2 separate regions of the Homo sapiens genome follow, and region 2 is linked to region 1. Evidence: fine-mapped expression QTL. A gene starts in region 1. The other region holds a variant in brackets. All regions are shown on one strand. Distances are between the middles of the regions.

Evidence for each region.
Region 2: its variant is fine-mapped to the expression of PPWD1 in blood mononuclear cells (TOPMed, PIP 0.92).

Annotation. Positions count from the first base shown.
Region 1 is chr5:65,559,188-65,572,416 of GRCh38, forward strand. It overlaps PPWD1 (peptidylprolyl isomerase domain and WD repeat containing 1), which reads left to right and starts at 4,109. Exons shown (of 11, transcript NM_015342.4): 1 at 4,109-4,319; 2 at 8,326-8,428; 3 at 10,445-10,545; 4 at 10,691-10,811; 5 at 12,652-13,099. The coding sequence starts at 4,124. CENPK (centromere protein K) reads right to left here and starts at 3,981. Exons shown (of 11, transcript NM_022145.5): 1 at 3,911-3,981; 2 at 2,276-2,377. RefSeq lists enhancers at 267-766, 3,236-3,897, 3,618-3,757, 3,898-4,558.
Region 2 is chr5:65,725,590-65,736,516 of GRCh38, forward strand. All of the region lies in intron 1 of NLN (neurolysin), which reads left to right. It also overlaps the pseudogene LOC100419549. Among named protein-coding and RNA genes, the nearest start is that of NLN, 8.8 kb to the left of the region's middle. RefSeq lists a silencer at 1,716-1,765. The variant G/A (reference allele first, on the strand shown) is at 3,358.

The sequences.
Region 1 (13,229 bases):
AATAAATGGAAAGATACTTCATATTCATGGACTGAAAGACCCACATTGTAAAGACGTTAATTCTCCCCCAAGTTGAGCTACTGAATCTTAACCAAAATCCTGAAAGTTTTTGTTTCTCTTTATGGGACTTGACAAGCAAATTGTAAAATTTACATGGAAGGGCCGGGCGCGGTGGCTCACGCCTGTAATCCCAGCACTTTGGGAGGCCGAGGCGGGCGGATCACGAGGTCAGGAGATCGAGACCATCCCGGCTAAAAGGGTGAAACCCCGTCTCTACTAAAAATACAAAAAATTAGCCGGGCGTAGTGGCGGGCGCCTGTAGTCCCAGCTACTTGGGAGGCTGAGGCAGGAGAATGGCGTGAACCCGGGAGGCGGAGCTTGCAGTGAGCCGAGATCCCGCCACTGCACTCCAGCCTGGGCGACAGAGCGAGACTCCGTCTCAGAAAAAAAAAAAAAAAAAAATTTACATGGAAGCACAAAGGGCCAAAACTAGCCTAAGATCCTCATGAAAAATAAGATGGGAGGACATACCCTACACTATTATGGCAATGTAGAACTGGCACATAAATAGGCAAATTGAGCAATGGAACACAATACAAAGCCTTTCTTGACTTTCTATATTCACATACATATGGACACATGACACATGACAGAGATGACAAGGCAAATCAAGGAGAAAAAAATAATCCAAATAGATATATATTTTATATATAATACTGTTTTTTAAATGTATATTTTGGTCCATATAAATCTTCCTCATTTTTTTTTAACATTTATAGTATTTGCGGAGAAAAAAATAAGTCTAAATTCATACCTGAATCTTTATGTCATTCCTCACTCCCTCAAAAAACCCAAAATAGAAATCACAAAAAAATAGGATGAAAACACAGAAACTTTTAAAATCTTAGATTAGGAAACACCTTTCTAAGCAAAACTAAGTAAAATCTTTACACCAAAATTTTTTTTTTAATTCTGCATGGACAAACATCTCATCAACAAAGTTAAAATTTAAAACCCCCAAACCTAGGAGAAATACTTGTAATATATATGGCAACCCAAGACCTAATTTCCTTAATATATAACAAGTGCCTACAAATTCATAAGAAGAAACCAAACAACTCACCATTAAAAAAAATTTAAAAAAGATTACCAAAAAAGTCAGGTTACCAATTACTTTGGAGGAAGAGTGGAAGGGGGAAAAGGGTTGTGGCTGGGATGGGCCAAATGGAGAGATTTCTGAGGTAATTATCAAAGTTTTATTTTTTGACTAGCATGATGGTAAGGGTGTTCACCTCATAATAATTAGTAAACTTTACGTTTATTTTGTGTCTGCATTTTTACAATAAAAAGGTAAACAACAAAAACAATTCAATAGAAACTGGCAAAGAACACAAATGAGGAATTCAAAGAAAAAACAAATACCTTTTAAATACAGAAAAAGTACATTCATAAGCTCATATATAATTTATGAAAATCCAAATTAAACAAGCATTAATTTTCATTCAGAATGGCAATAATGTAAAATTGGTAAGAGATAATACTGGCAAGCATGTGAAATAAGAGGCTTGCACTGTTGGTGGAACAATCACTTTGTATGATAATATCCATCAAAATTTTACATGCATTTCTTGTGATCCAGAAGTTCTATTCTTAGGAATAATCCTAAAGATAGATATGTCTGCATAAGTCTATACAATTATGTTTACTGGCACATTACTTAGAGAAAAAAAAACTTTAAAGGTATGAACTCTGCAACCAGACTATACAGGTTTAAATCTGTTTTGATATTTAAAAGCTATGAGACTTGGGCAAGTCACTTAAACTTTCTATGCCTCAGTTTCCTTTCCTATAAAATGAAGATAATATTAAATACTCCCTAGGGTTATGACAATTAAATGAGTATATAAATATATATATATAAGTACTGTAGCTAGCATATAAAGAGCTTTATCAGTGTTAGCTATTAACAATTTGAATGTCAACTAGTAGAAGGCTGAAAATCTCACCTGCTATACCCATAAGATACAGTTTAAGTTCACAAAGCCAAAATCAGTCATCATGAATTTTAGAATATTTTTAAGCGAAAAAGTCAAACATAAATATTTCTTTACTGACCACCAAAATACATTATCAATATGCAAAAGTAATGCAAAACTCTGCACATGTGGTGGGGGCGGAGGGTGAGGGATAAATATTCAACAAATTATCTGGCTTGGCGATTTAATGTGGCAGTAGAATAAAAACATATAGAAACATTTAAGAGTTTGCTCTCTACCGCTTGAGGATGCAAGATGTAAGCTGTATGTAACCTGGAAGAGGGTCATCAACAGAACCAGAAAATGATGGCACCCAGATCTTGAATCTCCAGCCTCTAGACCTGTGAGAAATAAATTTCAGTTGTTTAATTAAAACACACACACACACACACACACTTAAGAGTTGAACTTTTCCCGTTCCCACATTTTGTATCCTTAAACCTATCTTCCTGGAAAGGGAACAAGTCAACTTTTTGAGGTCCCCAGTTAGGACTACAATACTTAATCATTTATTGAAGAAAAACAGTATCTCTTTATTTAGGGATAATACTATACTTAAAGAAACTCGTACTATTAATTGGGAAAAGATTAATATACATGAAATAAGCAAAAAATACCCACATAATTCTAAAATACATTCATTTATTCAACAAATATGTTAATGTGTGCCATTGGTCAGACACTGGCTTTAGCTGTGTAGATGAAAAAGTCTTTGTACTTGTAGAGCTTCCATTCTCATGCAGACAATATAAATGAATGGATAACTAAATACATGATATGATTTCAGGTAGTCAGAAGTGCTATGAAATGGTAAAGTATACAACACTGCCTGCAAGTACTATCGGAATTCAGGATAGGGAAGCTTAGAAAAACCAACCCGGAAGGAATTAGTCCATAATAATGCTTAATAAATGTTAACTAGCTACATTATTATTATCATTATCATTATCATCTTCATCCTCATTATTGCATTGGTCTCTGAAAGATGAGAAGCTGTAAACATGAAGGCTAAATCGCTGTGGAGATGCTTTCAAGCATAAAAACATAAGAGTAGGAGGCAAGAACGAACAAGGGAAATTTGTGAGACACAAAAGAAAGTAGTCTGATGAGAGCAGAGGGCAGAGAAGAAATGAGACTTGCTAGGTAGAATGGTCAAATAATGGGAACCTTTGAAATAAAATAAAGTGCCTACTATGGGGGGGCAGTTCCTTCCCTGTACGTGGTGCCTATCTCAAGGCAAAAGTAGAGAAGAGATTTACGACGAGGATTTTATTAGGTTGGTGCAAAAGTAATTGCAGAGAAAAAAGAAGTGTTTTACGGAGGTCATTTTGACAAGCTGTATTTGATTTTTTAAAAAAGAGATTAAGATAATACATTTTATGTTATGTGCTTTTTACCTAATTTTTTAAAAATGAAGAAGACAGATGAGGAGGAGGAGAAAGAGTTCAGATGACTGCTAGGAGATGAAATCCTATACCAGAGAGAAGAAAGAAGAGTGACCCGTTCTGCCCTAGGTCTTTTGGTTATTTGAAGTAGCTGCTTCTCCACCCCACCCCCAGAAACAGTAACAAGCACTCACCACCTTCTTCAGAGAGTGTGTGAGAGAATAAAGGTCAGGAGAGAAAACATGTTTAGTGCATCTGAAAGGAAACCCGCGAGTTAACCACTTCCTTCTGTCCCCACCCTTCCATCTTTCTCTAAATATTGGTGAGGTTATGGAGCTTGCGTTGGCGCGCGGGAAGCCGAGAAGAACGGGACTCAAAGCCCGGCTGGGAAGTCAGGTATCTAGTTGGCCGGCGATAAGGGTTTCACCTTCAGGACTGGAGCTCCACAAGATTCAACCGTTATATCAACCTCCCCGGCCCAGGTCTTACCATCACAGCGTCACAAACTCCAGGTCGCCTAGGCGCTGCGCAGGAAGCGCTTGCCAGCCCCGGACTTCTGCGCGCGCTGCATGCCCATTGGATGTGCTCATTCCCACCCCAGCCAATCCCGAAACTCGCTCGGACGCTGACAGAAGACTGCGCCGCTGCTTTGGGATTGGTAGCTGAGTTTTGTGTCGCGCCTTTTCTGACGATGCGAACAACATGGCGGCGGAAAGTGGTAGCGATTTTCAGCAGAGACGTAGAAGGCGCCGGGACCCGGAGGAACCGGAAAAAACAGAACTCAGCGAAAGAGAGCTGGCAGTAGCAGTGGCGGTGTCCCAGGAGAACGATGAGGAGAACGAAGAGCGCTGGGTTGGACCTTTACCTGTGGAGGCAACACTGGCCAAGAAGAGGAAAGGTAGCTGCAGACATAGTACCGGGACGAATTGGAGTGCTGCGTCCGCTGAGTAGGAGGGTTCAAGCCAGATCCGAAGAGGGATGATGTGTGGAGTTTTGTGCCCTCAGAACAGAGGGCCGTCCTCTCACTTCTGGCTACTCCATACTTGCATGTCTTAACGAAATAGTGATTTAAGCGTAGTACAACGTCTTTTTGATAATATCTAACACTTTTGATCATTGATTTGTTATGACAGATGCTAAAACTAACATTTTCCTATTCTTATGTGTTTGGCTCCTCTCATTTACTCCCCACAGCAGCCACATGAAGTTGGAATTTCGAACTCTTATTTAGGTATGCAAAAGGGTACCAGTTCTCTTTAAGGCTTTAGTTCAGGAGTGGTGTTAATGTATTAATGTGTTGGGGCGCGAGAGGAAGGCGGTGCTTATTTCGAATCATGGTAGGTAAAGATAATTTCAACTCTGACACTTCCACTAATAAATTTTCGCATCTAGGGAAAATGACGTAAGCTTCCTAGATCACAGATTTGTTTTCATCCAAAACCCGAAGTCTGTGGTTTTGAAATCACGCTCTTGATACGATGGGCTGAGTCTTTTTGTCACTAACGAGGAATAATCACAAATTATTATCAAATAAAAGGGGTGGGAAAAGGGGTAGATTAAGTTTTCTTGTCTTTGTTGTTTTGTTATCTTGTTTTTCTGTGAAATGTTTTCCTTAAGTATTTAAGACATTTTAAATGTGGTCTAAGCTCAAATCGTACTTTAGCACCTTCCCTTAAAAAACTTCAATGATTTGTCATTATTTTCTCTCTCTTTTTTTTTTTTTTTTTTTTTTTTGAGACGGAGTCTCGCTCTGTCGCCCAGGCTGGAGCGCATGCAGTGGCGCTATCTCGGCTCACCGCAACCTCCGTCTCCGGGGTTCAAGCGATTCTCCTGCCTCAGCCTCCCGAGTAGCTGGGGCTACAGGCGCACGCCCAGCTAATTTTTGTATTTTTAGTAGGGACGGGGTTTCACCATGTTGGCCAGGATGGTCTTGATTTCTTGACCTCGTAATCTGCCTGCCTCGGCCTCTCAAAAGTGCTGGGATTACAGGCATGAGCCACGGCGCCCAGCTCATTATTTTCATTAAAGCCCAAACTCCCTCACATGGCATATAAAGCCCTTTATGATGTGATCTCTCCTTACCTTCTTAGTGCATCTTCCATTACCTTCCTCTCCCAACCCCTTACTTTGTACTCCACCCATTCTAAAATCACTCGAGAATCGGTCTTGTACTTTTTTTTCCTCTGGATTCCTACCCAGATATGGTGTTTCTACCGGGAATAATTTCCCTCAACTCTTCCACTGAACTGACTTTTGGTCAACCTTTAGCACTTAGCTATCATCTTCTCTGGGAAGCCTGTGACTTCTCCAGTCTGGACTGGATTTCTGAAGCACTTTGATCATAACTCTGAGGTAGTTATATATCAATACTGAATTTACAGGTAGCCTTCAAATTTTATGTATCCAAATTTTGAAGAAGCTGTTTTTTTGAACGTTGTATATTGACACCCTTACAGTGCATTATCATTTTTACTTCCTGGTCCTCTTATTAAATGTTTCCATAGTAACCATTTTATTTATGGCACTTGCCGCAGTTTCTAATTATATATTTATTCATGTGATTGATGAATGTTTCTCTCCACTGCTAAGACTGTAAACAAGTAAGAACCAGAATCACGCCTTTTTTGTTTCATTGCTTGGTGTACAGTGCTTTGCCTAAGTATTTAATGACTGCATATTAAAGCTTTTATGCTGGTCTTTAGCTATTTTGTTGCATATGAATATTTTTGCAAGTTCTTTTTTAATTAAACGAGTAAGGAGAAATGTAAAAATCCAGAAATATCGAAATGCTGATATTAGTGTTACCGGACAAGTGTCTTATAAACTTAATATAACGGAGACAGATATAAATTAGTAGGTGTGAAAATCTTTCCTCTTAATCAGTTATTTATTGTTTTAAGACAGCCAATAGTTGGCCGGGTGTGGTGGCTGATGCCTGTAATCCTGGCACTTTGGGAGGCTGAGGCGGGCAGATCATCAGGTCAGGAGTTCTAGACCAGCCTGACCAACATGGTGAAACCCCGCCAGTCTCTACTAAAAATACAAAAAAATTAGCCGGGCGTGGTGGCGCACACCTATAATCTCAGCTATTCAGGAGGCTGAGGCAGGAGAATCACTTGAACCCAGGAGGCAGAGGTTGCAGTGAGCTGAGATTGTGCCACTGTACTTCAGCATGGGCAACAGAGCAAGACTCCGTCTCAAAAAAAAAAAAAAAAAAAGCCAATAGTTTATTCAGTTTGAAGAAAAAAATTGAAACTAAAAAACATACATAGAATGTTACAAAAATATTTAAAATTTTGTCTAAATGGACAAGTATTTAACAATTTCAGCTTTCTAGAAATGGAGTCACCCCCTTTAACATGTTCTTTGGACATTGGACTGTTGTATATATTTTCAGAAAGACATGATTATATAGCACTATATCTCTTCAGGACAGGAACTGTGTTTTACTCTTCTTTATGCCCATGTGACCTAGAACGTATTGTGTTCTTAGTAAGTATTTGTCCACAAGTGAACTATCACACAGAAAAAGGAATCTGGATCAGATAGGATTAAGTTTATCTACATACTACAGAAAAACCCAAAATAACGATGTTGAAGAGATAGAGCTGTACTTTTATGTGTAGAAGTACCAAGACAGGCAGGCAGTCCAGGATTGGTGTGGAGGCTCCAGAAGTTCCTAGGCTCTCTCCAGCTTTCTGCCCAACATAACTAAGGTACAGCCCTCATCTTCATTTCTCTGAATGATTATTAAGATTACAGCAGTTATATCCCAGTTCCAAGCTATAGGATTGAGGAAAGGAAGAAGGGTACACTTTTTCAAGACTTCCTGTGACAAAACATTTCCACTTTTACTCATTAGCATATGGTTAAACCTCACTCCAGGGGAAAGTGAGAAAGGTCATGTTATATCTGGACATCAGTATGCCCATATATAAATGGGGGTTCTGTTCCTAAAAATGAAGGGAAAAGTAGTTTATCAGACACAAGCCTGAAACAGCTCGTCATGTTTAATTTAGCAACTTTTTTTAGGCACGTTTGGTCATCGTTCAGTTATTTTATTTGGGATACATATAATTCTCCCCTCCCCTCGTTCCCTCCTTCCTTCCCTTCTTTCTCTTCCTTCTTCTCTCCCTCCCTCCCTTCGTCTTTCTTTCCCTCCCTTCTTTCCTTCCTTACTTCCCTCCCTCATTCTCTCCATCCCTTTCTTTCTTTTTTTTTTTTTGCTAGTAAAATTGTTCATACCTCATATAATAAATCAGTATTTCCTGACATTCCTCAGATTACTACTCTTTCAGGTGGATTTTTTCCAGGTTTTGCCGTTGGAAAAAATTTGAGATACATTCAACTGGATACTCCCTAGGATGTTCTCAGGCATAAAAATCTAAGAATTTTACCATGTTTAAATGTTTCAAACACAGTGTCAATAACTTGAAAGAGAATCAGTGCTTTAAATATTAACTGAGACATCTTACAGATGGCCACTGGACTCTTTTAAGTTAGCACTAAATTATGTCTACAATGTTAGGAAGATGGTTGTGATATTTTCATGGAACTTTTTAATTTTTTTTCCTTTTTCTTTCTTTTTTCTTTTCTTTTTTTTTAATAGAACATTCACATTAAGCCAGAAGCACTCATTTCTTAAGTCCTGGGGACAGTTAGCATGTATATAGTACCTGGGAACCTGTTGTAACTGACTAAATAATGACGCTATTCAGTGCTCTGAAATAATAGACGTTAAAACTGAGATAACATACTGGATTTTTTAATTGTGAATTGAGAAAAACTAAAATCCAGGAGAAAATACCAAGTAGAGTGTAGACAATTTTAAATAAAGAAAATACAAAATAGTATTTGGTTTATTTGTTAAAAATAGATCTTATACTTTACTTTTTTTTCTTCAGTCTTAGAGTTTGAAAGAGTCTATCTTGATAATCTCCCCAGTGCATCCATGTATGAGCGCAGTTACATGCATAGAGATGTTATCACCCATGTGGTATGCACCAAGTAAGTCTATCACATCTTTTTTACTTTGTTCTGAGTTTATTTAAAAAAAAAAAAAGCTTCAATTTTGAGGTAGATTTATAGAGATAATTTTAAGATTTTGTAGATTTTTAATTTCTTAAGTTCTGAAATAAAGGCCTACATGTTCTTTCCTATATCGTACAAATAATGCATTCTCTAAGATAGAACCCCTGAGTTTATATGTATGTCTTTGGAGATAAATGCCAAGAGGGGAGTGAACCAGGTAGTGTCTGAGCTTCCCTGAAGAAGAGGGTACATTAGTTAAGATATGAGTAACTGGTACCTGGCCTCTTTGGCACTAGTGGAGAAAATGTGGGCTAACATACCCTAGGAATAGCAAAGGACCTTCAAAACAGATGAGTAGGTTCGTGTAGAAGGATAATAATAGTACAAGTTGAGCACCCCAAATATAAAATGCTCCAAAATCCAATAGTTTTTGAGTGCTGAACATGATACTCAAAAAATGCTCTTTGGAGCATTTGAGATTTTCTGATTAGGGATGTTCAACCAGCAAGTATAATGTAAATATTCTAAAATCTGAGAAATTGAAACTCCAAAACACTTCTGGTCCGATACATTTTGGATAAGGGATACTCAAACTGTAGTAATATTCTACTGTTTGTTGAGCTTATAGTATGTCCCAGGTACTATGCTAAGGCTTTTTCTTTTTTTATCTATCAAGTTAAGGCTTTTTCATAAATTTTCTTATTTATCATAAGGATAATCTTGTGAGTTAGTACATGCTCTTCATTTTAGAGATGACGAAACTGAAGTTTAGAGAGGTTAGATAGCATATTAGGCTGCTATTTAAAAGGCAAGGGCTAAATCCTAGAAGACTTTTTATTTCTTGTACGGGTTTTGAACCTGTGAGCAGGAGAGTAACATCATCAGATTTATTTTTATTAAAGGACCACCCTGGCTGTGGTGAGATGAATGGATTCAAACAGGGCAAGAATGGATACAGGGAGATAAGTTAGGAAGCTGGTATAGAAATCTGGATGAGATATGGTGGCTTGGATGATACTAGCAGTGAGTATGGGAAGTAGGTGGATTACTTTACACTTTTTTAGATCAGTCTATTCTTGATGTCTTGAAGACAAATTTAATTTCATATATAAATCTAAATAAAATATTTATATTTCATGTAAAATAGGATAATTCTGACCAAATATTAGCACCTTTTCTAGTCTCAAGTTATCAGTGTGGTAAAACAGTATATATATACATATTAGCATTGCTGTCACTCTCTTCTCAAATATTTTTGTTTTGTTTTTTTAACCCAAGACAATGGAAGGTAATACAGAGAATATAGGTTTTGTGGTGTGGTAGATTGAAAGCCACTCTAGCTATATGGACCTGAGGCAAGTACATTTAACATTTTAAAACTATTTCCTACTTATAAAATGATGATAAAAATACGTAGAGTTGCTGTAAAATTAACTAAGGTAATATGTACAAAGTACCTGACATATACTGGGTTTCCATAAATGATTTCTATTTTTACATACCTAATAGGAAAGATTCTTCTGTACAAAATCTTTTTGATACTTAAGTAACCAAAATACCTTGTATAGGATATAAAAAAAACTTTTGTTGAATTTTGTTGCGTATGAAAGTAGTATGTTTAGATTTACTTATCAGCTACTGACAAATAGTTTATTTTCTTGTGAAAAGACTGTCTGTAGGGTAATTTTAGCAATAAGGAATCCAAAGTGTAGTGATTCCTAGTGAGATTTTTATTTTAATGTCAAATTCTAGTTCAATTCTGATCCTAGCTCTTGAGGTTAAAATTAGTACAGCTGTAACTGTTTTGACATCCAGAAAGGAGTTTCAAAATTTGCAGTGTTCTGTAATATAGTGGTCTGCTTAAAGAAGGGTTTTTTTTAAAAAAAAACCTATTATGCACAAGTCAGATTCTTAGTGAATGATTGCTTTGGGAATACTAAGTGATTCATAGATCTGTCTTAGAAATTAACTTTTAACATTTCATATATGCAGAACAGATTTTATTATTACTGCCAGTCATGATGGACATGTCAAGTTCTGGAAAAAAATAGAAGAGGGAATTGAATTTGTTAAACATTTTCGTAGTCACCTGGGTAAGAATTGCACCTCATTTTCTTGTAGCTCTTTCCTAAACTATACTAATTAAAGTTTAAATTTTTTAAATTTTTTTTCTTTGAATCATGCACACTTATTTTACTGTTATTTACTAGAATGTTTTAATTTCATTTATTGAAATAGGAGTTATTGAGAGTATTGCAGTTAGCTCTGAGGGAGCATTGTTCTGTTCTGTGGGTGATGATAAAGCAATGAAGGTGTTTGATGTAGTGAACTTTGACATGATCAACATGCTGAAACTTGGGTGAGTCTTTTTAAAAGTATATATATTTTAACTTATTGAAGTAATTTGTAAATCAGACTTTACCATTTAATAGGTTATTTCTAAATAGTATATTACCATATCTTTAAATAAAATGTGCTGTTGGGTTTTGCTTGGAAAATTAGATACAGTGAAGCCTTATAATGTTTGGAAGCATCTGCTATGATTTGTTATCAATCACAGAAATTTCTAAACAGCATCATAACAAGGATTCCTTATATCCAAATTGACATTACTTAGTAATATTACTGGAGCTCTGTCATATCTAATTACTGGTAGTTACAGTTAACTTCCTTGCTTTACTTATTTCAGTAATATAGAATTGAGTTCCTATAAGATTTATTCACATTTTTGGAATTAAAGCTATTTATTGGTGACTTTAAACTTTGGAATATATTGATACTAAAACTATGGTTAGATTGTACAGTATTAAGACTGATACTTTGTTTTAAGCATGTCTTTTTTAAGATAACATAGAATTTATACACATCTAAATGAATGTCAGCTTGAAAGTCATAACAGTGTCAGAAAGTTTTGGGACTCGCCTTAGTCTGCTTGGATGCCATAACAAAAAAACCATAGACTAGGTGACTTAAATACAGAAATCTATTTTCTCACAGTTCTGGAGGCTGGAAAGTCCAAGATCAAGGTTCCATCAGGGTTTGATTTCTGATGAGGGCTGTCTTTCTTACTTCTCCCTATGTTCTCCCATGGTTGGAGGAAGAAGGAAGGGAGAGGGAAGAAGGAAAGGGAGATCTTTTTTTCTTCTTATAAGGCTACAAGCCCATCAGATTAGGACCCCACCCTGACTCTTATGAGCTCATTAACCTTAATTACCTCCTGAAGACCATGTCTCTAGAAATTCCAACTGATGGAATTCCAACTGTGGGCTGAATTATGCCCACAATTCAAATAATTTCACATCTTAGAATTTCCTTCAAAATCAGTTTATGACTTTATGAGCCACTAAAGGAAATAAATCTCATTATTTATGGTTAGAATGGCACAAACATACCTGTCTTGATCACCTGTCCTACTCCCCAGGTTTGTTTCCTCAAAGCTTTCCATTCACAGATATTGAATGTTTGCCCTTTGAGAATACTTGGAAGAGTATATTTCAGACTTTGATAGAAATTCTTGAAGAAGAGGTCTGGAAGGTTTTGAACATCAGCACCGTGGTTAGAATAATAGTGTCACTTCTCCGAATCTCTACTTTGAAGGAAACAACATTCATTTTTGAGTGTTTTAGTACAATTGATTAGATCAGTCTGAATTCTGTTATGCCTTGTTCATCAGGTAGAATGTTTAAAGCTTTGAGTTTTAATATCAAGATTTAGTTAGTAATGAGAGTGTTTTAGGACAGTGTTTTTCTTTGACGTATTGTCATAATAAAATATTTGATTTAAATATTTCAAGAAAGGATTTATAAAATACACTATTACATGCTAATCTATTTTAAAGTAAGTTATACATAGACTGTTGTACAGAGATCCAAAAAGCAATGTCCCAGAAGATCTTAAGGTCCAGATCTGATTAGGTTTCCTTATCTGCCCAAGAGAAATAAGTGTGCTGCTATATGCAGTTCTTTTCTTATGTTTTGACAGATCCTTAGAACTATCATTATACTGATGAGGTCAGAAAGAGAAAAAATAAGTAACTATTCTTAGCTGTTCCTCCCCATTCTGTGTCTCTGCTACTTTTGAGCAAGGAATCCAAAACTGTCTAAATCACCAGCCAAGACATTTTTGGTAGTGGGATAGGGAGGGATGCTTGCTTGTTGTGCTGACCTTTTTTTTTCCCTCTCAATTCTTTACGATTTTAGCTATTTTCCTGGACAGTGTGAGTGGATCTATTGCCCAGGGGATGCAATTTCTTCAGTTGCTGCTTCCGAAAAGAGTACAGGAAAAATTTTCATTTATGATGGCCGAGGAGATAACCAGCCACTTCATATTTTTGACAAACTCCATACATCACCTCTTACTCAGATACGGCTAAACCCAGTTTACAAAGCAGTAGTGTCTTCTGACAAATCTGGGATGATTGAATACTGGACTGGGCCTCCTCATGAATATAAATTCCCCAAAAATGTGAACTGGGAATATAAAACTGACACTGATTTATATGAATTTGCCAAGTGTAAGGCTTATCCAACCAGCGTATGTTTTTCACCAGATGGGAAGAAAATAGCTACTATTGGTTCTGATAGAAAAGTTAGAATTTTCAGATTTGTAACTGGAAAACTCATGAGAGTCTTTGATGAATCACTAAGCGTAAGTGTAATTTAAATTTAACCGTACTTTACTTTTCTAAAAATGCTTTATTTTATGCCTTTTCTTGAAAGATCTTTTTTCTACAGATAGACATTTAGATAGACTTATTTTTTTCTTAGCACATTAGAGA
Region 2 (10,927 bases), 170 kb after region 1:
GAAAAGTCTTCAAGTATTGGGAAGCTGTCAAGCTCACAGTGGCAGATAGGATTTTCCAAAATTCTAGTTTTCACTTGAAAGCTAGAATTTTATCATTGGTAACACAAACTGTCAGTTGTTTTACTTGAAGTGACAATCTCACTTTGTTACATTTTTGACAGAATTTCTGCCACATACTTAAGTCTGAATAACCCTGGTTTGTCTGTCAGTAGTTTTTTTCTGGTAAAAATGGTGTTCCATGGGCTGGGCACGGTGGCTCACGCCTGTAATCCCAGCACTTTGGGAGGCCATGGCAGGTGGATCACGAAGTCAGGAGATCGAGACCATCCTGGCTAACACGGTGAAACCCTGTCTCTACTGAAAATACAAAAAATTAGCCGGGCGTGGTGGCGGGCGCCTGTAGTCCCAACTACTCGGGAGGCTGAGGCAGGAGAATGGCGTGAACCCGGAAGGTGGAGTTTGCAGTGCGCCGAGATTGTGCCACTGCACTCCAGCCTGGGCGACAGAGCGAGACTCCGTCTCAAAAAAAAAAAAAAAAAAATGGTTTTCCATGAAAAAAATCTATTTCAGCTCACAGTTCAACCAATTGCAAAAGTGCTTTTGATTTGGGCAACCAAATCCTCAGGACAACCCTTATACTCAGGTACACAGCAGAAATGCTTTGTGTGTACTTGGTCACATATAACTCAAAGGTAGAGATTTAATAAAAATTCATACTTTTTACCATTTCATTAAGGATATTCTAAAATGAAATTGACATTATTTTTAGCCTGAGTGCATGGCAATGAAAAATATAGCTACTAGTATAGTTTGGTGTCATTGCCTCAATTTGTGCTGAAGTACCAACAGTATTATCCACCATTCCTTTTCGCCATCAGTGCAAATGTTCATAAAGTAAAAAGGATAAATAATGTCTTAGTATTGTTATGAAAGATTTTTAACCTCACAGATTCCTTGAAAGTGTCTCAGGAACCCCTCCCCATACCTCTACCTTTAAGGTTTGTGGACTACATTTTGAGAGCTGCCGATATGTGGTATTAGATTCTTTGTTTATGCATGGAAGAAAATAAATATACTAATAGCCAAAAAATTATTACCTTGTTAGAAGCTACCATAAATATATTAACTAATTTGTTACATAAGGGCATATCTTACAGTTAATCATCATATATGGTAGTCCTTAACCCAGGGCTTCCTTGACTTAATCACAGAATCTGCTCTGTTTCAAAATCAGTATCTTCCAAAAGAGTTCATATTAGACAACATGGAGGACCCCCTGTGTTCTCCTGTTTTTCCTGTTTCCTCTGACACTTGGGAGTTCATTTTAGTGTTATGGAGTAACTAGGCTTTTGCCTAACTGACTTACAGTTTCCATTGGGTTTTCTTGTTGGCAGAGCTGCTATATCCCCTTCCCAAGGCCAGCTTCCAGCTAGGATCATTGATTGGGGTGTTCAGCCAACTTCTTGGGAATAAGTGGACTGAGAATCTGGAGTTTGGATTATAGTTGCTGTTCAATTCACTTTGTGACCTTAAAAAAATCACTCACTCCCTTGGACCTCTTTCAAGTTATGTACCTATGTATGTATGTATTTTAGAGACAAGGTCTCACTCTGTCATCCAGGCTGAAGTGCAGTGGGGCATGATCATGGCTCACTGCGGTCTCAAACTCTGGTTTCAAACAATCCTCCCTGCCTCAGCCTTCTGAGTAGCTGGGACTACAGGCGCTCACCACCATGCCCAGCTAATTTGAAAAAATTGTTTGTAGAGATAGGATCTTGCTATGTTGCCGAGGCTAGTCTAGAATTCCTGGCCACAAATGATCCTCCCATCTCAACCTCTGAAAGTGCTGGGATTACAGGAGTGTACTATCATGCCTGGCCCAGGTTCCTTATATTGTAAAATGAAAAGGACTAGACTAAATAATAGCTAAGGCCTTAAAAAAAAAACAAAAAGCAAAAAACCTCTATATTGCCATAGCAAACCAGGAGAATTCCTCCTCCTACCTCAGATTGTACAGCATGTGACCCAAGCAAAGCCTAATGTATATTATAGAATAAGAGGGATGAGTGACATGGTCAAAGAAACAAACGAGAAGGTTGACTCAACAATATTTAGCCGAAACAATAGCTGTAATAGCCTAGCTTCCTCTTGCAATTAGAAAAGACAGCTTGGTTTGTTTTTTGGTTTTTGTTTTTTTGAGACAGTCTCGCTCTGTTGCCCAGGCTGGAATACAGTGGCATGATCTCGGCTCACTGCAACCTCTGCCTTCTGGGTTCAAGCAATTATCCTGCCTCAGGCTCCTGAGTGGCTGGGATTACAGGTCCCCACAACCACGCCTGGCTGATTTTTTGTATTTTTAGTAGAGCTGGGGTTTCACTATGTGGGCCTGGCTGGTCTTGAACTCCTGACCTCAAGTGATCTGCCCACCTCAGCTTCCTAAAGTGCTGGGATTATAGGCGTGAGCCACTGCACCTGGCCTAAAAAACACAGCTTGGTTTTTTAAAATGATGACAGCAATGCGTGTTCATTATTGAAAACTTAGCAAGTAATGACAAGCAAAAGAAAATATTAAATATATATATAATCCAGCCACCTGGAACAGCCAATTCTTAACAGCTTTCAAAATTTCCTCTATGAACAGACTTTCTTTTTATAAATATGATATTGTTATTCTTTTATAATTTTTAATATTATACAAACATCCCCTAAAATATAAATAGCTATAATATATTCCTTTTGGGGATGTATGCAATTTGATTAATATACGCCTTTAGAAATGTCAACTATTCCCAACTTCCTGCAATGAGTAATAGTGCTTGGATAAACATTCCTATTGTCCTTTTCCAAATCTTTAGTTATTTTCTTAGTATAAATTCTTACAAATGGAATTTGTACATCAAAGGGCATGCATACCTTTCAGGTCTTTGGTACTTATCATCTTATTCTATTCTAAAAACTTTCTCCCAAATTATAACCTTACCAGGTGAGTAAGTAAATGCTGGTTTCCTATACTGTTACCAACATTGAGCATTTTAATTTTTTTTATCCTTACCAGTTTGATAAGTGGAAATTTCTCTTATTATAATTTGCATTTTCATACATTTTTGGAAGGTTTATTCAGTGAGTATAATTCCTAAACAAAAATTCAGGAGTTGTGGTCTGGAAACCAAAAAGTTATTTGTTGTCTGATGTGAAAATTTATTTATATGGAAAATCTTAGAAAGTCAGACAAATTCAATTACAGTTTTCTTGGTGTTTTTGTTTGTTTGTTTGAGACAGAGTCTCACTTGGTTGCCCAGGCTAGAGTGCAGTGGCATGATCATGGCTCACTGCAGCCTCGACCTCCCGGGCTCAAAC[G/A]ATCCTCCCACTTCAGCCTCCCGAGTAGCTGGGACTACAGGTGTTTGCCACCACACCCGGCTAATCTTTGTATTTCTTGTAGAGACAGGGCTTCGCCATGTTGCCCAAGCTGGTCTCTAATTCCTGGGCTCGAGTGATCTGCCCGCCTCAACCTTCCAGAGTGCTGGGATTACAGGCATGAGCTACTGGGCCCAGCCTAAATTACAGTTATTAATAAACTTAACAATATTTACAGGTCTAAGTGTAATTAAATAAAATTGAGATTATTCCTCTAAAACCAGTAGGCATAATCTCCAAAATGTTAAGAGAACAGTATTGGGGAAAAAAATCTAGTAAAGAAAGGGTTTTTTAAGTTAAAGTATCAAGAGCTAGGTTGACATTATTTGTACAAATGGATTTGGTTATAAAATAGGTTTTCTTTTCTTTTTTTTTTTTTTTTTTTTTTTAGGATGGAGTCTTGCACTGTTGCCCGGGCTGGAGTGCAGTGGCACGATCTTGGATCACTGCAACCTCCGCCTCCTGGGTTCAAGTGATTCTCCTGCCTCAGCCTCCGGAGTAGCTGGGATTACAGGCACCTGCCACCACGCCCAGCTAATATTTTGTATTTTTAGCAGAGACGGGGTTTTACCATGTTGGCTAGGCTGGTCTCGAACTCCTGATCTCATGATTCACCCGCGTCGGCCTCCCAAAGTGCTGGGATTACAGGCGTGAACCACCGTGCTCCGCCGAGGATTGATTTCTTTCTTTTTTGTTTGTCCTTTAACCCTGGTTTTGGTCAGAAGCAACCTGGTTCTTTCTCAGAGTTAAACATTATCACCTCTTTGGTTAAGACAAAGCACAGGACTTACTTGGGAAGAATCCCCTGAATTAAAGATATGAAGAACCAAGGAAACTGATGTGTATTGAATACATATGTAAATGCCAAGCTGCCGCATTGCAAAGTGCATGTAGCATCATAGAGTCGACTATATAAATCTAGAAACAGCTCGCCTGAGTTTGAATGCTGGTTTTGCCACTGACTAGCATTGTGATCTTAGGCAAGAATACTTAAGTTCTCCGTATCTGTTTCCTCCTCAGTAAATTGATAATTGATTGGCTGATTTCTTCATTCACCAAATATTTATTGTCTATTATATGCGAAATAGTATTCTTGGTCTGGGGATATAGCAATGAACAAAGCAGATAAAAATCTTTGCATTAATGGAACTTACATTCCAGTGGGAGAGACAACTAAGGAAAATATAAAGTAAGTTAGATGGGAAAATGTGCTGCAGAGCAAAAGTAAAATGGGAAAGGGGAATGCTCAGTACCGATAGGAAGGAAATTGTAGAGTCAACAGGAAAGGCTACCAAGAAAGTGATATTAATACTTGAGTAATGATCTAAGAGAAATGAGCAGTTGTGCTATGTGAATACCTGAGGCAGGTCATTCTAAGCAGGAGAAACGGCACACACCAAGGCTCTGAAAGCAGGGCTATGCCTGGTGTTTTTGAGAAAGTAAAGAGACCATTGTGACTAGCATGGAATAAATGTCAGGCAAGTAAGTAGGAGATGAGACAGGGAAAAATTGGACTCATCCTTTTTTTTCTATTTTCTTCTTTTTTTTTTTTTGTTTTATTCGTTTGTTTTTAGATGGAGTCTCACTCTATTGCTCGGGCTAGAGTGCAATGGCGCAATCTCAGCTCACTGCAACCTCCTCCTCCTGGGTTCAAGCAATTCTCCCACCTCAGCCTCCTGAGTAGCTGGGATTACAGGCACCCGCCATCATGCCCAGCTAATTTTTGTATTTTTTGTAGAAACAGGGGTTCACCATGTTGGCCAGGCTGGAACTCTTGACCTCAAGTGACCCACCTGCCTCTGCCTCCCAAAGTGCTGGGATTACAGGCGTGAGCCACCGTGCCTGGCCTGTACTCACCTTTTAAGATTGAAACAAATATAGAACACTTTGAACATTGCCTGGTTATATCCATTCCTATTACCACAAAAATGCTGTATAACAAACTGAATTTCAGTGGAGTACAATGATCAATGTTTATTTTTGCTGACAAATCTAGATTTTGGCTGGGCAGTTTTTCTGATCTTAACTCATTCATGCTCCTTCAGTCAGCCATGGGTTGTGTAGGCAGCTCTGCTGATCTCTGCTATCCTCTCTCACATGTTTGGTGATGTAGGATGGCCACAGCTGGGGCTATTTGGCCCTCTTTCCTGTGACGTCTCGTCCTCCAAGAAGCCACCTCTGGCTTGTTCTCATGTCAGTGGCAGGGTTCCATGAGAGAGTGGAAGGCAGTTGGAACTGGAACCTCATTAGCTCTGCCACATTCTACTGGTCAAAGCAAGTCACAAGGCTAGCCCAGATTCAAGAAGTGGGGAAACAGACTCTATCTCTTGATGGGTAGAACAGCAAACTCACATTGTTAAGAGACATAGACTCATAGCAGGTAGAAAATTGAGGCCATGTTAGTTATCAGTCTACCACATCGGCACATAATAAAATCTCGAGAAATATTAGTTACTGTTTTTACTTGTGTGAATTGCCTAGTTTTATTTTGGGATTTTTAAAATTAGGATTATTACTTTGTAAGAGCCCCTCATAGATGTTTCAGTTGTTTTTGATCTTTGAACTTTTGGGGTAGATTATTGTTGCTTTTTGCTTTTTTGCTTTATCCCTACAAAAGTTTAAATTTTTATACAGTCAGAAATATCAGTCTTTTCCTTTATGATTTCTGCCTTTGGTCTCATTCCTAGAAAGTCCTTCTCCACCCCAAGATTATGTATTTTAAAAATCACCTACATTTTCTTTTTTTTTTTTTTTTTTTTTTTTTTCAGACAGAGTCTAGCTCTGTCACCCAGGCTGGAGTATAGTGGAACAATCTCATCTCTCTGTAACCTCTGCCTCCCAGTCTCAAGCAGTCCTCCCACGTCAGCCTTCCAAGTAGTTGGGACTACAGGTGTGAGCCACCACACCTGGCTAATTTTTGTATTATTTGTAGAGACAAGGTTTCACCATGTTGCCCAGGCTGATCTCAAACTCCTGGGCTCAAGCAATCCTTCCACCTCAGCCTCCCAAAGTGCTACGATTACAGGCATGAGCCACCACACCCAGCATCTACATTTTCTTCTAGTACTTTTATGTTTCATTTTTCACACTTAAACCCTTTATCTATCATGAGGGCTGACTTTTTTAAAAAGACTTCTTCAAATTATTGAGTGAAACAAAAAGGAAATCAACACCGAAACTGCAAAACTGCAAGAAGTATAAAAGGAAGTCCAGCTTATGAAATCTGGATTTCCCGTTCACCATAGCTTACATTAGAAAGACTCTGCCCAGAGGGATGGCCCGGGCCAGATGCTACAGAGAGAGACATGCAGGGAGCTAGTTAGTCAGGGGTTCAGATCTAGGGAGGGTGCATTTGTGAATTCCTTTTTAGGAAGTGTGTTTGAAGTTAATATGATGAAACTTACACTTCATATAGAGGAGAGTATGAAAGAAGGGAAAGTGCATCAAACCTGTGCGTTTCACAGTAGAAGCTCCGTCCTCACAGCTTAGTAAACACCAATGATCCTGTCTCTAATTCTCTGTCTGTAAAAGGTTCTTTTGAACCCCAGGAAAAGTAGTTGACATGAGAAAAGCGTGCTTCTTGGACAGAGGTGAGGGAGTAGGCAGGAGAGTGGTATAAAGTGATAGGTGGTTTGCAGACGCGGGCACGTCAGGGAACCTTTGCAGACAGGTGGCCCTAGCTGATGTCCCTAGACCTTGCTCAGTTGAGTTCTTTGTGCACATCTCCCACTGGGCTCCTCTGGCCCAGAGATGAGGTTGTCTGCTGAAAGATGCAGTAAAGAGGCTTTAAAGATTTTGTGGCCTTGAACCAATCACACAAGCAAGGCTGAAAGGACTGAGCCTAAAATGGAGCTGCCCCTGAATGATCTGAGTCTTCATCAGGCAGCACCTTGCACACAGACCATCATCTGATGATGGGAACAAACTTGTGTTTGGGTGAAACAGGCTTCCCCATTGCAGTTACTATAACACCTGTGTGGTAGTAAGGTGCAGAATTACTCAATGCCCACTTCAAGTTTACCATTGAGATGATTTCCCACCCCCCTCCTCTAACTGGCACCATTGCCCATAACTAATTTCTTGCTCTCCCCAGGTGCCTCAAGAACCTCTTGGGGGCCTTTATATTCTGTCATGCTTACCTAGCTGATCGGGACATGGAGTGTCTGTCTTAGTAACCAAGCCTCAGTCAGCTAAAGGAGCTGCATCTGATTCATATCCTAATGTGGACCACCAATCTTGAGCCCCTTGGAGCTCTGCTAGAGAAAGTTGCTGCTACTCTCGAGACCCTCACGTTAAAGGACTGTCAGATCCAGGACTCCCAACTCAGGCTCCTCCTGCCTGCCCTGAGCCACTGCTCCCAGCTCACCACCTTCTACTTTCATGGAAACGAGACCTCCATGAATGCTCTGAAAGACCTGCTGTGTCACACAGGCGGGCTGAGCAAGTTAGGCCTGGAATTGTATCCTTCCCATCTGGAGAGTCTTGACAACAGGGGTCATGCCAATTGGGAGATCCTTGCCCCAATTCGGGCTGAGCTGATGTGTACAGTCAGGGAAGTCAGGCAGCCCAAGAGGATCTTTTTTGGTCCCGTCCCCTGCCCTTCCTGTGGCTCATGGCCATCTGAGAAAGTGGACCTCCATCTTTGCTCTTAGGGAAGGCCTGATTAGTGGGATGGATACGCTTTCTTCTGGACCCTTGGGCACTAAAATCTAGGACACAGGTGCTTTTTTTTTTTTGATGGAGTCTCGCTCTGTCCCTCAGGCTGAAGTGCAGTGGCACAATCTCAGCTCACTGCAACTTCCACCTCCCAGGTTCAAGTGATTCTCCTGCCTCAGCCTCCCTAGTAGCTGGTGTTACTGGCATGCACCACCACACCCAACTAATTTTGTATTTTTTTTTCTTTTTTTTTTTTGAGACGGAGTCTCGCTCTGTCACCCAGGCTGGAGTGCACTGGCACGACTTCGGCTCACTGCAACCTCTGCCTCCAGGGTTCATGCCATTCTCCTGCCTCAGCCTCCAGAGTAGCTGGGACTACAGGTGTCCACCACCACACCCAGCTAATTTTTGGTATTTTTAGTAGAGTCAGGGTTTCACCAAGTTAGCCAGGATGGTCTCAATCTCCTGACCTCGTGATCCACCCGCCTCGGCCTCCCAAAGTGTAATTTTTGTATTTTTAGTAGAGACAGGGTTTCACGATGTTGGAGGAGGCTGGCCTCAAACTCCTGACCTCAAGTGATCTGACTACCTTGGCCTTCCACAGTGCTGGGTTTACAGGCATGAGCAGCCTGGCCCGGTCAGGTGCATCTTAAAGGAAGCACACGGTCATGTGTTTCAGGCACGTGCTGACTGTGAGTGGAAAAACAAAGGTGACTCAGCTGGGGGCAGAACTGGGTGAAAATGCTGACTTGGCATCAATAAAGCCTTCAGGGACCTGTTTCCTAGACTCAGAAATGGAACCTGAAGTTCTAGAATGATGCAGGAGTTACCCTCGCACGGATGGTTATTTAAAAATGTCAAAAATAAATGGAACCTGAATGGAAAAAAAAAAAAAGAAAGACTCTGCCCATTCTGCCCACTCTGAGATTGTCTATGCTTCCTGTTTGGCATTCAAGAGGAAGTCCTCATATTTCCCAGCCATATTTTGCTGGTATCTTTAATATTTAATCCCACTTGTGGTCAACACCGAAAGGAAAATTCTATTTCTGCCTCACATCTCAGGTGGAGTTGTAGTGACTGAAATAATCACAGGTTGATGAAGCCTGCTTGCTACAATGTATAAGGTCCATACTGTCAGGGCTACATAGATCTAACTATTCTAACACTGAGATTTATACATCTATACATTATTTTTATTCTCATAGGAATTCTTTTTAAGGTTTCGTAGCTTTCTCCTCTGCCAAGATACAAAATAGGGAACCACAAATTATTTATTTAAAAAAGAAATAGATGAATGATATTAGATTCCAACTACCAATTGGACAGCTCCTGAGGTCTCACAGTCAGCCACTTTTTTATCTTATAAGTGATATGGTTTGGCTGTGTCCCCACCCAAATTGAATCATGAGGCAGTTACCCCCATGCTGTTCTCATGATACTGAGTTCTCACAAGATCTGATGGTTTTATAAGGGGCTTTTTCCTCTTTGCTCAGCACTTCTCCTTCCTGCCACCACATGAATAAGGAGGTGTTTGCTTCCCCTTCTGCCATGATTCTAAGTTTCATGAGGTCGCCCCAGCCATGCTGAACTGTGAATCAATTAAACCTGTTTCATTTATAAGTTACCCAGTCTTGGGCATTTCTTCATAGCAGCATGAGAATGGACTAATACAATAAATACTTATTGAACACCTATTATGTTGTTGAATCTCAATATCACCTTTTCCTAAATTGACGGAATTCCCCTGGCTTGCTTTTTTGCCATTGTTCTTTGCCTCAGTGTCACCATTTACGCAAGTCCAAAGCCTAGGAGCCATTCCTTGCTTTTTTCTCTATTTCCTTTACCTTTTCCACCAACACCAAGTCCTGGATAGTCTTCACATTCTTTCTCCTTTCTTTGTTCCCAGTATCACCATCATAATCCAAATCTTCCTCATCATGAGTCCCAGCATCAATTTTTGCTTACCACTAATATATTTTCCTTATGAAAATAGAGATCTTTAGGAACTACAAATGTGACATGTCATACTTCAGTTTGCAATTTTTCTTTACTTGTCATTAAACAATCAAAACTCTCTTGTGGTTTAGAAATCCCTATACAGTCTGACCCCTGTGTAGCTCTCCCAGCTTCTCCTCTCACTCAGTGAACTCAATGCTTCAGCCAGAGAGTTTATGTCCTTATCTCCTGGCCTTAAATTAACATAAGCTGATCTCTTATTTGGAACATTCTTTTCTTTCTCTCCCATTTCCAGAGCCTAATACTTATTCATTTATCTTAAGAGTTATGAAATATTATACACAAAAAATGTAATGCATATACGTATATACATGTGACTAAAAGGATGAAAAATGTGTCAATATATAAAATGATATTTCTAGTATGAAAAATATATCTATATGTAAAATGATATTTCTAGTACCGTTGAAGTTCCTTGAGTGCCCCCTTCAACCATGTCCCTTTCCTCATACCAGAGATAACCACAGTCTTGAATTTTGTAATTGCTGTCCTCTTGCTTTTCTTTATAAACATTACAACAAATGTATATTTCCCTAAACAACATATGATTTAGTTTTGCATAATGAAACTAGTTTCACATGGATATGGTTCATTTTTACTGTTGTAAGATATTTCATTGTGTGACTATTCCAAAAATTTACTTTTTATTTTGTCAATGAATATTTGGGCTTCCATTTTCTTGATATTACAAGCAATATTGCTATGAATATTCTTATAATGTCTCCTGATACATATGTGTAAGAGTATGAATTTAAGAGAACAATTACTAGGTTGTAGGATGTACATTCTCAACTTTACCAAATAATGCCCAATTCTTTTTCCAAAGTGGTTATACTAATTT